Linked DNA regions of Homo sapiens. The protein of the gene in region 1 purifies or fractionates together with the protein of each later gene. This does not show direct contact. Each region holds a gene or a part of one and is shown in the gene's direction. Other genes may lie near its edges.

Evidence for each region.
Region 2: the proteins of CX3CL1 (region 1) and SLC20A1 purify together in Homo sapiens (affinity purification with mass spectrometry; one large-scale study listed by BioGRID and IntAct). This does not show direct contact.
Region 3: the proteins of CX3CL1 (region 1) and PLEKHH3 purify together in Homo sapiens (affinity purification with mass spectrometry; one large-scale study listed by BioGRID and IntAct). This does not show direct contact.
Region 4: the proteins of CX3CL1 (region 1) and PKN3 purify together in Homo sapiens (affinity purification with mass spectrometry; one large-scale study listed by BioGRID and IntAct). This does not show direct contact.

Annotation. Positions count from the first base shown.
Region 1 is NC_000016.10:57,375,490-57,378,989, forward strand, and holds part of CX3CL1 (fractalkine isoform 1 precursor), read left to right. Parts: intron 1-3,500. UniProt on the Homo sapiens protein: Chemokine that acts as a ligand for both CX3CR1 and integrins ITGAV:ITGB3 and ITGA4:ITGB1. The CX3CR1-CX3CL1 signaling exerts distinct functions in different tissue compartments, such as immune response, inflammation, cell adhesion and chemotaxis.
Region 2 is NC_000002.12:112,659,439-112,662,938, forward strand, and holds part of SLC20A1 (sodium-dependent phosphate transporter 1), read left to right. Parts: coding exon 1-324; intron 325-948; coding exon 949-1,134; intron 1,135-1,703; coding exon 1,704-1,788; intron 1,789-3,425; coding exon 3,426-3,500. UniProt on the Homo sapiens protein: Sodium-phosphate symporter which preferentially transports the monovalent form of phosphate with a stoichiometry of two sodium ions per phosphate ion. May play a role in extracellular matrix and cartilage calcification as well as in vascular calcification.
Region 3 is NC_000017.11:42,670,705-42,673,994, reverse strand, and holds part of PLEKHH3 (pleckstrin homology domain-containing family H member 3 isoform 1 precursor), read left to right. Parts: coding exon 1-61; intron 62-160; coding exon 161-352; intron 353-438; coding exon 439-596; intron 597-698; coding exon 699-819; intron 820-1,602; coding exon 1,603-1,909; intron 1,910-2,436; coding exon 2,437-2,644; intron 2,645-2,864; coding exon 2,865-3,001; intron 3,002-3,289; coding exon 3,290-3,290.
Region 4 is NC_000009.12:128,712,503-128,716,002, forward strand, and holds part of PKN3 (serine/threonine-protein kinase N3), read left to right. Parts: intron 1-549; coding exon 550-696; intron 697-775; coding exon 776-885; intron 886-996; coding exon 997-1,140; intron 1,141-1,543; coding exon 1,544-1,619; intron 1,620-1,694; coding exon 1,695-1,863; intron 1,864-2,059; coding exon 2,060-2,162; intron 2,163-2,295; coding exon 2,296-2,363; intron 2,364-2,669; coding exon 2,670-2,733; intron 2,734-2,866; coding exon 2,867-2,958; intron 2,959-3,500.

The DNA of each region.
Region 1 (3,500 bases):
GGTCCAAAATGTCAGTAGTGTCACTGTTGAGAAACCTTGCCCTAAGGGAAAAATGCTCCAGAAGTTAAAAAATTCTTATTCTCACAACCACACTGTGAAGCAGGTATTGTCACATCCATTTTACAAGTAAGGAAACTGAGGCTCAGGGAGTCCGAGTGACTTGCTCAGGACACACAGCTGGGCAATGGCTCAAGCCCTCCCTTTATCACCTCATCCAGCAACCCAGGACATTTCCTGAGTCTCCTTCTAAGACCCTGGAAGACTCTTAGAAGTCCTTGAGGTCCAGCCTAAAGGAGAATTCCTCCAAGAAGCCTCCCCTGACCATTTGAAGTTGGAAGTGGTCTCTCCCTCATGTAAACCCCAATATGTTTGTGGTATGTTCTGGAACACTGTGTTTCTACCTGGCATCTAGGGTAGCCTAGAACAGTGGGGTGTTTAGGGGCTGAGTAGAAAACTAGCTCTGCCACCATGCAGCTGTGTGGCACTGGGCACATTTAGCCTCTCTTATTTCCAGCTTCTGCATCTGTAAAGTTGGGATAATACTCCCTTTGCAGGAATGTTGGGAATTAAAGAGAGCAGATGTGTACATGCTGGACACAGGGTCCAATACACAGTAGGTGTTCAATTAAAAAAAATAAATAAAACCTCTGATACTTTGTGTGCCTAATTTACCTGTCCATCAGGCTGGGAGCCTTCTGAGGCCAGAGGCATTCCTTGTTCATCTCACTGTACCTCACAGCACCCAGCACAGGGCCTGGCAAGAGGAACCAGCATTTGTTGGTTGACTGAATAAACAGAGTGATCTGATGGCATTTATTGGGATGGAAGCACTCTCTTCAAACTCAGCACCAGTGCCTATGGGAGAAAGAGCTCAAGGTTAAGGATAAGAGGGCCTGAGATTTTTGTATATACTCAAAAGTAATTCCAGCCAGTGTTGGCTGAATCAGGAAGTGGATGGATGGATGGATGGATGGATGGATGGATGGATGGATGGATGGATGGGTGGATAGATGGATGAATGGATGGATGGATGGATGGGTGGATGGATGGACAGATGGATGGATGGAAGAAGGGATGGGGAGGGGATGATGAGGGATGGATGAGTAGGTGAGATAAAAGGGGGCGGAAGATTGACAGGTGGTAGGTAGGGGAGAGGGAGTGGGTAGATGGATGAATGGAGATGAATAGGGGTTGGGCAGGAGGTGGCAGGTGGGCGAGGAATGGGTAGAAGATTGATAAGAGTGGGTGGACGGGTGGATGGATAGGTAGATAGATGCATTAAAGAGAGATAAGTAAACTGAGACTAATTTCATTCAATGAATATTGATTGAGTATCCACCTTGTGCTTGATGCTGGGAAACTATGATACCAAGACAGACAAGGTCCCTGCCTTCCTGACACTCCTATGACAGATAATATATGACTGGCTGGATGAGGCATTGTCTCCATTTACAGAAAGGAAAATTTCAGCTCTGAGAAGGGACAGGCTCCCCAGGTCAGTTAAACAATCTTCCTGGCAGAACCAAGAACTGAGCCGGGCCAGGACCATTCAGGGACCGTGGCAGAGGGTGGGGACTTTGGAGACAGGATGACTCTGTGGCTCTTTAAAGCCCTGGAGGTGGGCAATGGCTTTTCCCATCTTGGATTTGGGGAGCACAGAATGGACCTTCTTTCCTATCCATTGGGCAGCCTCCCTTGCCTCCTCCTGTCTCTGGTCACTCAGGGGCACCGTATTTTCTGGGGCTTCCCAAAGAAGACACCTGCAGGCCATTTTAGGGGACTGCCACCTGGCTCCACTCAATAGGGCCTGGGGAGGCTGCAGGTGAGTCAGTCTGAGGTTCCATTGCAGAAGGAGGGTGGCCAGCCCACACAGTGACTTTTATATCCTGGTTACTCAGAGAGAAAGGACAGCCCTGTGACCTGGGGAGCCCCTCCTGCACACAGCCCCCAACCCCCTGAAGCTACTAGTGCTTCTCCTTGATGACTCAACCCAGACCTGCCGGCCCTAAACCACCTTCCCACAAAGCAGGGTGGGCCAAAGCTAAGGGGGAGCGATGGAGAGAGGAAGCAGCAGACTCTACAAAGTCTCTCTGTGTGTGCAAGCGTGCATGTGCCTGTATTTGGGAAAGTGGTGTATGTTTGCATGGCCACATATATGTAAATATTTATGCATGAGCAGTTCGTGTTCTGGTGGAGCCCAGGGATGCCCTGGGGGTTTCCCAGGCTCTGAAGGGCTAGATAAGATCAGCTTGCTCTCTTGACTGCCCTGGTCTCCAGATGTTTGCAAAACCCTCTGGGGTCTTGCTTTTGCTGCATATAACCTTGACTCAGATCTGAAACTCAAGCTCTTCCTTGTTTTTTATACTCATCCTCCTTGAGCTCAAGCTAAGCAGAAGAAAATTTGCTGGAGATTATAGAGGAAGAGAAAAGGTGGAAATTCAATGTAAACAACTTCAAATGTTTATATCAAATAGTTGGGTTTATTTGTCCTGTCCCGGGGTTTCTCTCTGGTTCCACGTGACACTCAGCTACTGCCTGCCCCTTCCGCCCCACTCTGCCCCCACCTTATTCATACCGTCCATCTCCAACCCTCCTCCTTACTCTTCTTGCTCCAGGAATTTCAAATGCCTCTTCCCTCCTAGGCAGGATGACTCAGTACCTTTCAGCAACTGCTCTCGGGCTCATTCTGGCTCTCAGCAGCAGAACAAAGGATCATCTATTCAGCAGACCCCACCTTCCTTAGAAAGCAGTTGTACTTATATATTTTTTAAAAAGTTTATTGCTGGGCATAGTGGCTTACATCTGTAATCCCAGCTATTCCGGAGGTTGAAGTGGGAGAATCACTTGCGGTCGGGGTTCAAGACCAGCCTGGGCAACATAGCAAGACCCTGTCTCTTAAAAAAATTAGCCAGGCATGGTAGCAGGCACCTGTAGTCCCAGCTACTTGGGAGGCTGAGGCAAGAGATCTCTTTTTTTTTTTTCTTTTTTTTTTGAGACGGAGTCTTGTTCTGTCACCCAGGCTTTAGTGCAGTGGTATGATCTCAGCTCACTGCAACCTCTGCCTCCCGGATTCAAGCAATTCTCCTGTCTCAGCTTCCCGAGTAGCTGGGACTAAAGGTGCACACCATCATGCCAGGCTAATTTGTGTATTTGTAGTAGAGACAAGGTTTCACCATATTGATCAGGCTGGTCTCAAACTCCTGACCTCAGATGATCTATCTGTCTCGGCCTCCCAAAGTGCTGGGATTACAGGTGTGAGCCACCGCACCCGGCCAGGAGGATTTCTTGAGCCCAGGATTTTGAGGTTGCCGTGAGCTAGGATTATACCACTGCACTCCAGCCTGGGCAACAGAACAAGACCCTATCTCTTAAAAAAAAATGGCAGCGGGAAGAAATAAGGCAGAGGTGAGGGGATAGGCAAGGCCACAGGCCCGGTGGGGACTAGAGCAGGAGAACCTGCTCCATCACTTGCTGGCTGTGTGACCTTAGCAGGTCCCTGT
Region 2 (3,500 bases), on another chromosome or scaffold:
GCCTCTGGATTCATTCCGTGCCAAAGAAGGTGAACAGAAGGGCGAAGAAATGGAGAAGCTGACATGGCCTAATGCAGACTCCAAGAAGCGAATTCGAATGGACAGTTACACCAGTTACTGCAATGCTGTGTCTGACCTTCACTCAGCATCTGAGATAGACATGAGTGTCAAGGCAGAGATGGGTCTAGGTGACAGAAAAGGAAGTAATGGCTCTCTAGAAGAATGGTATGACCAGGATAAGCCTGAAGTCTCTCTCCTCTTCCAGTTCCTGCAGATCCTTACAGCCTGCTTTGGGTCATTCGCCCATGGTGGCAATGACGTAAGGTCAGTTGACATTGATCTTAGTGTTGCTAACCCTATTTTTAAACCATTTATCCTTGTCACAGGCCTGTGCTTGTGGTAGTGGTACTCCTAGCATTTACAGGACCCCAAATAATACAAATAGGATGAGGTAATAGCAGTTATTGACATAATAAGACAGTACAGTTTTATTCTTCAGAGGAATTACAAAGAATGTTTATTTTTGTAGATGATAAATATAAACAGATACTCTTCACAGAGAAGGCTTTTGTCCATCAAGATGAGATTCAGTTCTTTGGTAGTGAATTGTGGGATGTAAGATGTAAGATGAAAAACTTAAAAGTTTTTCATATAGAATGATTTTGTAGTTTGGTTTGTAAACTGTTTATTGGAACCTGAGAGTTGCTTTAAGCTGCCTATAGGAGGAAAGAGGCCACCATTTGCCTGGCATTCCCTCCATCAGAGCTGTGTTCATTTTTCTGTTGTGTATGTTGGGGTTCCATTTATGTCTTTAGAAAGAAAGGCCCTTTTGCCAGATGAGCTTGAAAGCTGTACTTTAGACAACCTGGTAGATCATTCAGCAGATTGGGTCTTGCCAAGATCTAGTTCTGCCTGAAAAGTCACTTCTGCCCTCTTTGTTTCTTCCAGCAATGCCATTGGGCCTCTGGTTGCTTTATATTTGGTTTATGACACAGGAGATGTTTCTTCAAAAGTGGCAACACCAATATGGCTTCTACTCTATGGTGGTGTTGGTATCTGTGTTGGTCTGTGGGTTTGGGGAAGAAGAGTTATCCAGACCATGGGGAAGGATCTGACACCGATCACACCCTCTAGGTAAGTAGGTGGAGCAGGTTCTACAAATGTCAGTACTCATTTTTTTCAGAGATATAACACTGTCGAGTGCTAACACAAATCTCTAAAGTAACCAAGTTTGTATAAGTTCATGATGTTCTTATTGTCATTGTTCTTTTTAGATTTTACTTGTCTGGCCCTTAAACATTTTGGTCAGACATTTTACCCATTTAGCTCTGGTGGTCTCTGAAGAAAATGACTTTTCTGAGAAAGCTGTGTATGCTAAGAGCGGATAGTTATGTATACTTGCCTTTTATTTGTCTTGGGAGCTAAGACTCAATGTTTACCAAACTCTTCAAAATAAAAGTGCAAATTTTATTTAATAGTGGGATTCCAGAAAAACGTAAAACTGGAAGCCTTTGAATAAGGAAACTGGGCATCTGTGGCCTGATTTAAATAAAGTAGATCTTAGGGGTTATAGCAAATAAAGATGTCAGTGGAGGTTTTGTGACTGAGTAGAACAAAGCAGGACTGTGTTAACTTGAGGTGTAGTGTTAGCTTCTCAAAAAAGTCAAACTCACTTCCTGACAAGAATCCTTTTGTGTCTGTAGTGGCTTCAGTATTGAACTGGCATCTGCCCTCACTGTGGTGATTGCATCAAATATTGGCCTTCCCATCAGTACAACACATTGTAAAGTAAGTGTAATGCCAATGTGTGTCTTTCAAATGGTTCTTCTAATATGTAGGGTTTTTAGTTTTACTTCTCTGATACTTTGATTTAGAAAGTTTTGTGCAGTTGGAGTCTTGAAGAGTTCATAAGTTATTTCTTGTGTTTATTCTTATTTAAGCAATTAAATAGATATTCTCCCCAAATAATAGAAACATTGTTTTATATACAGCTTACTGTAGTTTCTGGCTACTAACCTCTTCCTTTGTTACTTTATCCTCCCTCATTGTAGTCTCTTTATAATAATTTTTTTTTTAATCTCAAGAGTCATTTCTACTTGGCACCATTATGTTTTATTTATTTATGTATGAGTTGGAGTCTTGCTGTGTCACCTGGGCTGGAGTTCAGTGGCACAATCTCGGCTCATTGCAACCTCCGCCTCCTGGGCTCAAGTGATTCTTGTGCTTCAGCCTCTCAAGTAGCTGGGATTATAGGCACCCGCCACCATGCCTGGCTAATTTTTGTATTTTTAGTAGACACAGGATTTCACCATGTTGGCCAAGCTGGTCATGAACTCCTAACCTCAGGTGATCCACCTGGCTCGGCCTCCCAAAGTGCTAGGATTACATGCGTGAGCCACCGCGCCCGGCCGACAGCATTATGTTCTTTGCCTTTGGGGAAGCCATTCAGAGCAGGGTAGGTGTATGCTTAGAAACTGGCAGGTGCTTTAATTCTGGCCAGGTGGGTTTCTGCTGCCATTTGTGGTGGCTGAAGGCCTGGTTCTAACAAGTCTGTGAGGCTTGCCAAAATGTTGGCAAAGCAGTTTATTTACAGAAGGCATATTTCAGGGCCTCTCAGGATTGAAATACTGAGAAACAAAACAAATCTTAAGGTTGTTTGATGACAATCTAATAATTATAGGAGAAGGAAGAAACTGGTTTCCTTAAGAGCATTTAAGCTGGTCCATCATGGATCCTGCTGAGTCATCTGTTTGCTACCCGGATGTGTCTCCAGACAATTGTTTATTAGGTTTAATATCAGCCACTCTGTAAATAATCTTAGGAAGACTTACAATGCAATTTGTTATTAAAAGCAGTGTATAGGCCAGGTGCAGTGGCTCATGCCTGTAATCCCAGCACTTTGGGAGGCCAAGGCAGGTGGATCACAAGGTCAGGAGTTTGAGACCAGCCTGGCCAACATAGTGAAACCCCATCTCTACTAAAAATACAAAAAATTAGCTAGGCGTGGTGGTGGGTGCCTGTAATCCCAGCACTTGGGAGGCTGAGGCAGGAGAATCACATGAAACCAGGAGGTGGAGGTTGCAGTGAGCCAAGATTGCGCCACTGTACTCCAGCCTGGGCGACAGTGCGAGACTCCGTCTCAAAAAATAAATAAATAAAAGCAGTATATATTCATTAAATTTTAGCAGTAGCTGAGAAGGGGAAAAGAAATAGTTCTTGTGTCCTTTTACTACCGTTAGTATAGATTATGATTGGATTTTCAAATTGCCTTCATTTTCCCAGCTTAACCTGTTGTAAACCAGCTTTCTTGGACTTTGTCTTGTCCAGGGGTCTGGGGCTCCTTGTCCAAACAGTCTCAGGTGTCTGTTTGCCAGAATACCACTGGCACTTCAATAACCTGTTTCCTTGGTCTGCTTCTCTTCTAGGTGGGCTCTGTTGTGTCTGTTGGCTGGCTCCGGTCCAAGAAGGCTGTTGACTGGCGTCTCTTTCGTAACATTTTT
Region 3 (3,290 bases), on another chromosome or scaffold:
ACTTGGAGCCTCATCCCGGAGAAAGGGCTGCCGGAGGACGACCCGGACATCGTTGTGAAAGGTAGAGACCCCCCTCAGTGCACTCTGGAGGCCCCCAATCCCAACCCCCTAGGGATTAATGTCTCTACTGATGTCCCTTCCCTCCCTCTCCGGCCCCCAGGTTGGCTGTACCGGGAGCCCCGCGGAGGAGGGGCGCGGCCCTGGCTGCCCCCGCGCCGAGCCTGGTTTGTGCTCACGCGGGACTCCCTGGATCAGTTCAGCAGCAGCGGGAAAGGGGCGCGGCGTCTCGGGAGCCTCGTGCTCACCAGCCTGTGCTCGGTGACCGGCCCAGAGCGCAGGCGTAAGGAGACAGGTGAGACCTCCTGGGGACTCTCCTACCTTCCTAGGCAGGGGCCCCGGCAGACCCTAATGGCCCTCCCTGGCCTCTCTTTTCCCCAGGTCTGTGGTCAGTGACTGTGTCTGGTCGGAAACACAGTGTCCGCCTCTGCTCCCCACGCCAGGCAGAGGCTGAGCGCTGGGGGGTGGCATTGCGGGAAGTGATCGCCTCCAAGGCACCCCTGGAGACCCCCACCCAGCTACTGCTCAGGGACATACAGGTACACACCAGGGAGAGCCAGGAGAGTGGTGGACCCCAAAGCTTTCTGGGGTTGTGAGGAACTCCCTTCCCCATCAAGGTGACCCTCTCCCTGGCCCCCTAGGAAAGTTGCGGGGACCCAGAGGCCGTTGCCCTCATTTACCTGAGGAACCCGATTCTGAGACACACTAGTGGAGCCTTGTATGCCCCACTCCTGCCCCTGCCCTATGGAGTCAGCGCCCCAGGTGAGTGGTCCCATGGCCCAAGTCCCCTGGATGGGATGGGGTGGTTCAGAGGTAAGAATCTGAATCCCTTAACTGGCAGGGATCTAAGCATCCTTCATGGACCTGCCAGCTCCTCACTTTTCGAAGGATGAAGGTGAAACTGGAAGCTGGCCAGGGTGGAGGAGAGGAAGCCAGCACACACAAAAGGGCCCCCTTTGGCCACCTTCTCTATGGGTCTCATTCTGACTACTGATGTTCCTTCAGGAGTTTGTACACTCCCCTATTTTTTCATTATCCTCTTGAGACTATGCCATATTACCTTTACAAGTGGTAGAAAAGCTACCACTTTTGTAGAATGTGCTGGCCTCATCCAACTGTACTTCTCCCTAAACGGTGTAGTGACTGGCCCAGGTCCTAAAGTTAGAGGATTAAAGGGTGCTGGGAGAGGAACCCCGGTTTTCTGACTCCTAGTCCAGCCTGTTTTCTGACCTATGGTGGTGAGCCTCAGTATGGAGTTACAGAATCTGGGGTGTGAATCTACAGCCCTTCCCGGCCGTCCGTCTCCCTAAGTCCAAATGCAGGCTTAGTGGGATTGGGAAGGGGATTCCTGGGAGGCAGAGGTTGAGAGTCTGGCTCCGTGGGACCACTGCTTTCCCTTCACTCTTCCTGTCGTTCGTACCCTCCCCTCCCTGCCACCCCATCCCCTTATATTCCCTCTGACCTTCCCCTGGTTCATGCCTTCCTCCCAGGGCGCAGCTCTGTGTCCCCTCTCCAAACCGTCCCTCCGCCCCCACCCTCCCACAGGTCCGGGCTATGCACCCCTGCGCGAGGAGGCGGTGCGGCTGTTCTTGGCGCTGCAGGCGCTGGAGGGGGCGCGGCGCCCCGGGCCCTTGATGCAGGGTGTGCTCCAAACCTGCCGGGACTTGCCCGCGCTCCGGGATGAACTCTTCCTGCAGCTGGCTAAGCAGACCTCGGGCCCTGCAGGTCCCCCCGGGCTCCCGGCTACCCAAGACCCTGCGGCCCTGCGGTACTGGCAACTCCTCACCTGCATGAGCTGCACCTTCCGACCTGGGGGAGCTGTGCGGGGGCACCTCCTGGGGCACTTGGAGAGGTGAGAGGGGCGAGGTGGGGGTTACGGCCTAGGCGAGGAGCTACCGGGCTGGGAGAGAATGAAAGGTCTTTTGCAAAAGACTTGGTAGGTAAAGAACCGAGTAATACATACAGTGCCTTTGTGGGAGATACAAGATCCTATCGCAGTTGTGAGCGGATGAATTACAATAAAACGCCCCCCTTGGGCTGAGGAGTTATGAAAAGGCTGCTTTTCCTCCAGCTGATGCAGGCCAGCGCCAGGGCTTAGGAAAATGTAGTAAAGTGGCTGGATTTCGATTTCAGGCCGAAGGAAGATCACGAAGACTTTTGGAAGTGGTGGAGGCAGTTGGGAGAAAGCTGCCAGGGGACTTGAAAAGTAATTCAGCTCTATGCAAAGCACTGGGGAGAGATTTAGAAGAGCCTTCAAAGAACTTGAGTTGGGGCGGGGAGGAAATCGGCTAGATAAAATAAACTATAAGAGAAGCAGGCAAGAGGGAGGGGGAGAAGAAAGCCCTTGGAGTATTGATCCCTGGGTTCCTCCTAACCCAGGACCGAGCAGGCACTCCCGGACTCGGAACTGGCGGAATATGCGCGCTTCATCCGGAAAGCGCTGGGCCGGACGCGCGGCAGAGAGCTGGTGCCCTCGCTGGCGGAGATTTCCGCGTTGAGCCAACGGCAGGAGCTGCTGTGTACCGTGCACTGTCCGGGGGCTGGTGCCTGTGCTGTGGCCATCGACTCCCACACCACGGCGGGGGAGGTGAGGCCAGAGAAAGGCCCCATGACCTCCAACCCACCCTGCCAGCTTCTCACGCCTGTCTCTCCCTCTTCCTGGACCCTAGGTTTGCCCCGAGTCTAGATTATTTTGGTAAGGGAGGGAGTGGTGGTGACAGGACTAAGAGACCCCTTCCAATTGAATCAACCCCTCCCAGAATCCTGGCAAGACCTCTGAGTGGTCTCCCCTCACCCTCCTCTTCTAGGTGGCTCGAGAGCTGGTGGGGCGGCTGGGCTTGGCCCGGAGCCGCAACGCATTCGCGCTGTACGAGCAGCGAGGGGCCCAGGAGCGAGCCCTGGCTGGGGGGACCCTCGTGGCCGACGTGCTCACCAGGTTTGAGAAGTAAATGTCCAGCCCCAGCCCTGCTCTCTATTAGCCCATCCACTTCTCAGCTGAGGTCAGTCTCTAAGCGGACATTATCCAGCGCTTGCCCCTGGCCCTGCGCTGTGGTGTTCGCTGGTTTACAGACGGACCTGCCCGCCGCAGGTTTGCAGTCCGACTGCAGCATCACCTCCGCTGTCGGCTCCGCCCAGGCCCCGCCCCAAACACATGGCCCCGCCCCCACCCCAAGCTGCCCTCGCCGTAGGGGTCCGGCTTCTCCCTAGCGCTTCGTCCGCTCCTCTTCTGCAGC
Region 4 (3,500 bases), on another chromosome or scaffold:
GGAGCAGGTGGGTCCGGACAGGAAGCCAGGCTTCCTGCTCCCTGTCCCAAGCTCTTATCCTTGCCACAGTGCTCTCTAGGCCCCACTTCTAGGCAGCATCTCGTCATGTGCTGTGGCTCTGTGCAGCCTGGCTAAGGTCTGAGGTCTGAGCCTATGTCCCTGCCGCTCCAGCATGTGGAGGGGAGAGCCAGTTGCTCTGCCCTGGAAAGAGGTGGCTGCCACAGAGAAGTGTGCATTCTGGGACAACGTGGCTCCTCACCTGGGAGTGTCCAGGTCGGAGGCCTCCTAGGGTGTCATCGGGGTCCAAGGGTACCCTTTGGGGGGCTCATGGTGCTTGGGAGCTGCAGGACAGTCAGCAGGCTCCAGTCTAGGCACTCTAGGCCGCCACACTGAGTGAGGTTCCTCAGGTAACTGCCCTGGCCTCAGGTGGGTACGGTCTGGGTTCAGCCACCTCCTGGAGAGGGTGGCCTTCCTGGGGTCCCAGGACACCTTGGTGGTAGCAGTGGGAAGATGGCATCTGACAACGCCCCCCGCTCACTCTCCCCACAGGGACACTGCAGGTCCGCCTCCTGGGCTGTGAACAGTTGCTGACAGCCGTGCCTGGGCGCTCCCCAGCGGCCGCACTGGCCAGCAGCCCCTCCGAGGGCTGGCTTCGGACCAAGGCCAAGCACCAGCGTGGCCGAGGCGAGCTTGCCAGTGAGTAGGGAAGGAGCTTCAGGGGGAGCAGGAGACCCCTGCTTCAGGCCTGCCCTGAGTCCCGGCTCTGGCCCTGCAGGCGAGGTGCTGGCTGTGCTAAAGGTGGACAACCGTGTTGTGGGGCAGACGGGCTGGGGGCAGGTGGCCGAACAGTCCTGGGACCAGACCTTTGTCATCCCACTGGAGCGAGTAAGGCTGGCCTTTGTGTGGTCAGGGGTGACCTTGGGCTGCGGGGTGGAAGGCTGCCCAGGTCGGGGCTCGTTCTGCACCCCACCCTTCAGCCTGGCCTCCCCAATACAGGCCCGTGAGCTGGAGATTGGGGTACACTGGCGGGACTGGCGGCAGCTATGTGGCGTGGCCTTCCTGAGACTTGAGGACTTCCTGGACAATGCCTGTCACCAACTGTCCCTCAGCCTGGTACCGCAGGGACTGCTTTTTGCCCAGGTGCTCACCACCTCCGCCCTCTGACTTGGTGGGACCCTGGGGCGTCAGGGCCAGGAAGGCCTTCAAGACCGATGCACTGCGTGTAGGTGCAGAGACTGACGACCAGAGAGGAGGGCTCCAGGAATAAGGGCTCCTAGCCGCTCTCTCAGGGCTGCATCTGGAGGCCTGGGTCCTTGTCCTGACTGCCCTGCCTCAGGTGTGACCCTGGAAAAGTGCCTCTCCTCCCTGGGCCTCTGTTTCTCCACTAGTATCAATGAGGACATTGAATCTGTTTCTCTGGGTCTTTCTGGCTCTTGCATCTGTTGACCCTGGGGGCTTGGGCTGTAATCCCAGGGGCAGAGGAGGTGCCATGGCAGATGAGATGGGAGGCGACTGGTCCACAACCCTGCCCCTACCCCTGCAGGTGACCTTCTGCGATCCTGTCATTGAGAGGCGGCCCCGGCTGCAGAGGCAGGAACGCATCTTCTCTAAACGCAGAGGTGTGGAGGGAATGGGGGCTATGTGTGAGGGAGCAGGGCTGGGGTCCCGGGACTAAGCTCCCCCTTTTCTCCCAGGCCAGGACTTCCTGAGGGCTTCGCAGATGAACCTCGGCATGGCGGCCTGGGGGCGCCTCGTCATGAACCTGCTGCCCCCCTGCAGCTCCCCGAGCACAATCAGCCCCCCTAAAGGATGCCCTCGGACCCCAACAACACTGCGAGAGGCCTCTGACCCTGCCACTCCCAGGTGAGGAGCTCCCTTGCCCTAGACTGCATGCTCCTCTGTGGCGGCTTCCTGACTCCAGATCCAGGCGGTATCTGTCTGTCTGTCTGCATTGCTCAGCCCGCTAACCCTCTGTCCATCTCACTTTGGGTTGGTGTGTCCATCCTGCCAGCTCTTGCGTCTGCCTGTGCTGGGCACTGTGTCTACTTTCTCCCTACAGTAATTTCCTGCCCAAGAAGACCCCCTTGGGTGAAGAGATGACACCCCCACCCAAGCCCCCACGCCTCTACCTCCCCCAGGAGCCAACATCCGAGGAGACTCCGGTGAGGGGCTGGAGGGACTAGTGGCTCCTAGGGCCGGCTGGGGCTGGCAGGGCCACCCAGCTGTGGGGTGGCAGGCCTGAAGGGAAAGAGAGAAGGAAGCCCAGCCCTGCCCTGAGCTCCTCTATACTCACAGCGCACCAAACGTCCCCATATGGAGCCTAGGACTCGACGTGGGCCATCTCCACCAGCCTCCCCCACCAGGTACCCCATCCTGCGCACCTTCATGTTTGAGACGTTCGTCTGCTTGCTTGAACATTTGTGTATCCATTCATACATTACTCCCTGGCTCCCTGGCGGGTGCGCTGACTGGCTCTCGGGGTCTGATTTACTAAACCCACATTATTGAGCTCCAGCTCTATGCCGGCTTCTAGGAGTCCTTACTGCAGGGCTTTTTCGAGCCCATAGGTCGGGACAGCCCAGGACTGGGCATGGGAGGCTTGGAGTGGCTCTGGGTAGGGGCCCAGCCAGTGCCCTAGGGGACTTCATATACCCTCTCTTCCTTTGCAGGAAACCCCCTCGGCTTCAGGACTTCCGCTGCTTAGCTGTGCTGGGCCGGGGACACTTTGGGAAGGTAGTGGGCTGAAGAGGGTGGTATGGGACGGGATTGGGGGCCTCATCACATGAGCCGGGAGGACCTGATCTGTGGGGGCGGTAAAGGCTCCCTGGTCTGGCCCACCTGGAGCACAACCTCTCTCTGGCCCCAGGTCCTCCTGGTCCAGTTCAAGGGGACAGGGAAATACTACGCCATCAAAGCACTGAAGAAGCAGGAGGTGCTCAGCCGGGACGAGATAGAGAGGTGTGTGGGGGTGCCGCAGGGCACCCAGGATGGCTGGCCTGGGCTGTGGCATCCAGAGGGCAGTTGAAGGTTCCTGGGGCTTTGGAGAGGTGACCCCGTGGGGCCAGCCAGCCTGCATTCTCTTTTGGCACCTGCAGTTGTTAACTGTGTTTCCTTGGGCAGGTCCCCTCTTCTCTCTGTCAGTTTGCTCTACTGTAAAATGGGGGCATTGGTGGCTGTGCACGTTCAGAGCTCCTTGTGAGCCCCTGACATATAGAAACCATCACTCTATGGCCAGGCGTGGTAACTCATGCATGTAACCCCAGCACTTTGGGAGGCCAAGGCAGGCGGATCACTTGAGTCCAGGAGTTCAAGACCAATCTGAATCACATGGTGAAACCCCATCTATAAAAAATAGCCAGACATGGTGGCATGTGCCTTTAGTCCCAGCTACTTGGGAGGGTGAGGTGAGAGGATTGCTTAAGCCCAGGAGGTAGAGGTTATAGTTAGCAGAGATCTCCAGCCTGGGCAACAGAATGAGACCTCATCTAAAAAAACTAATT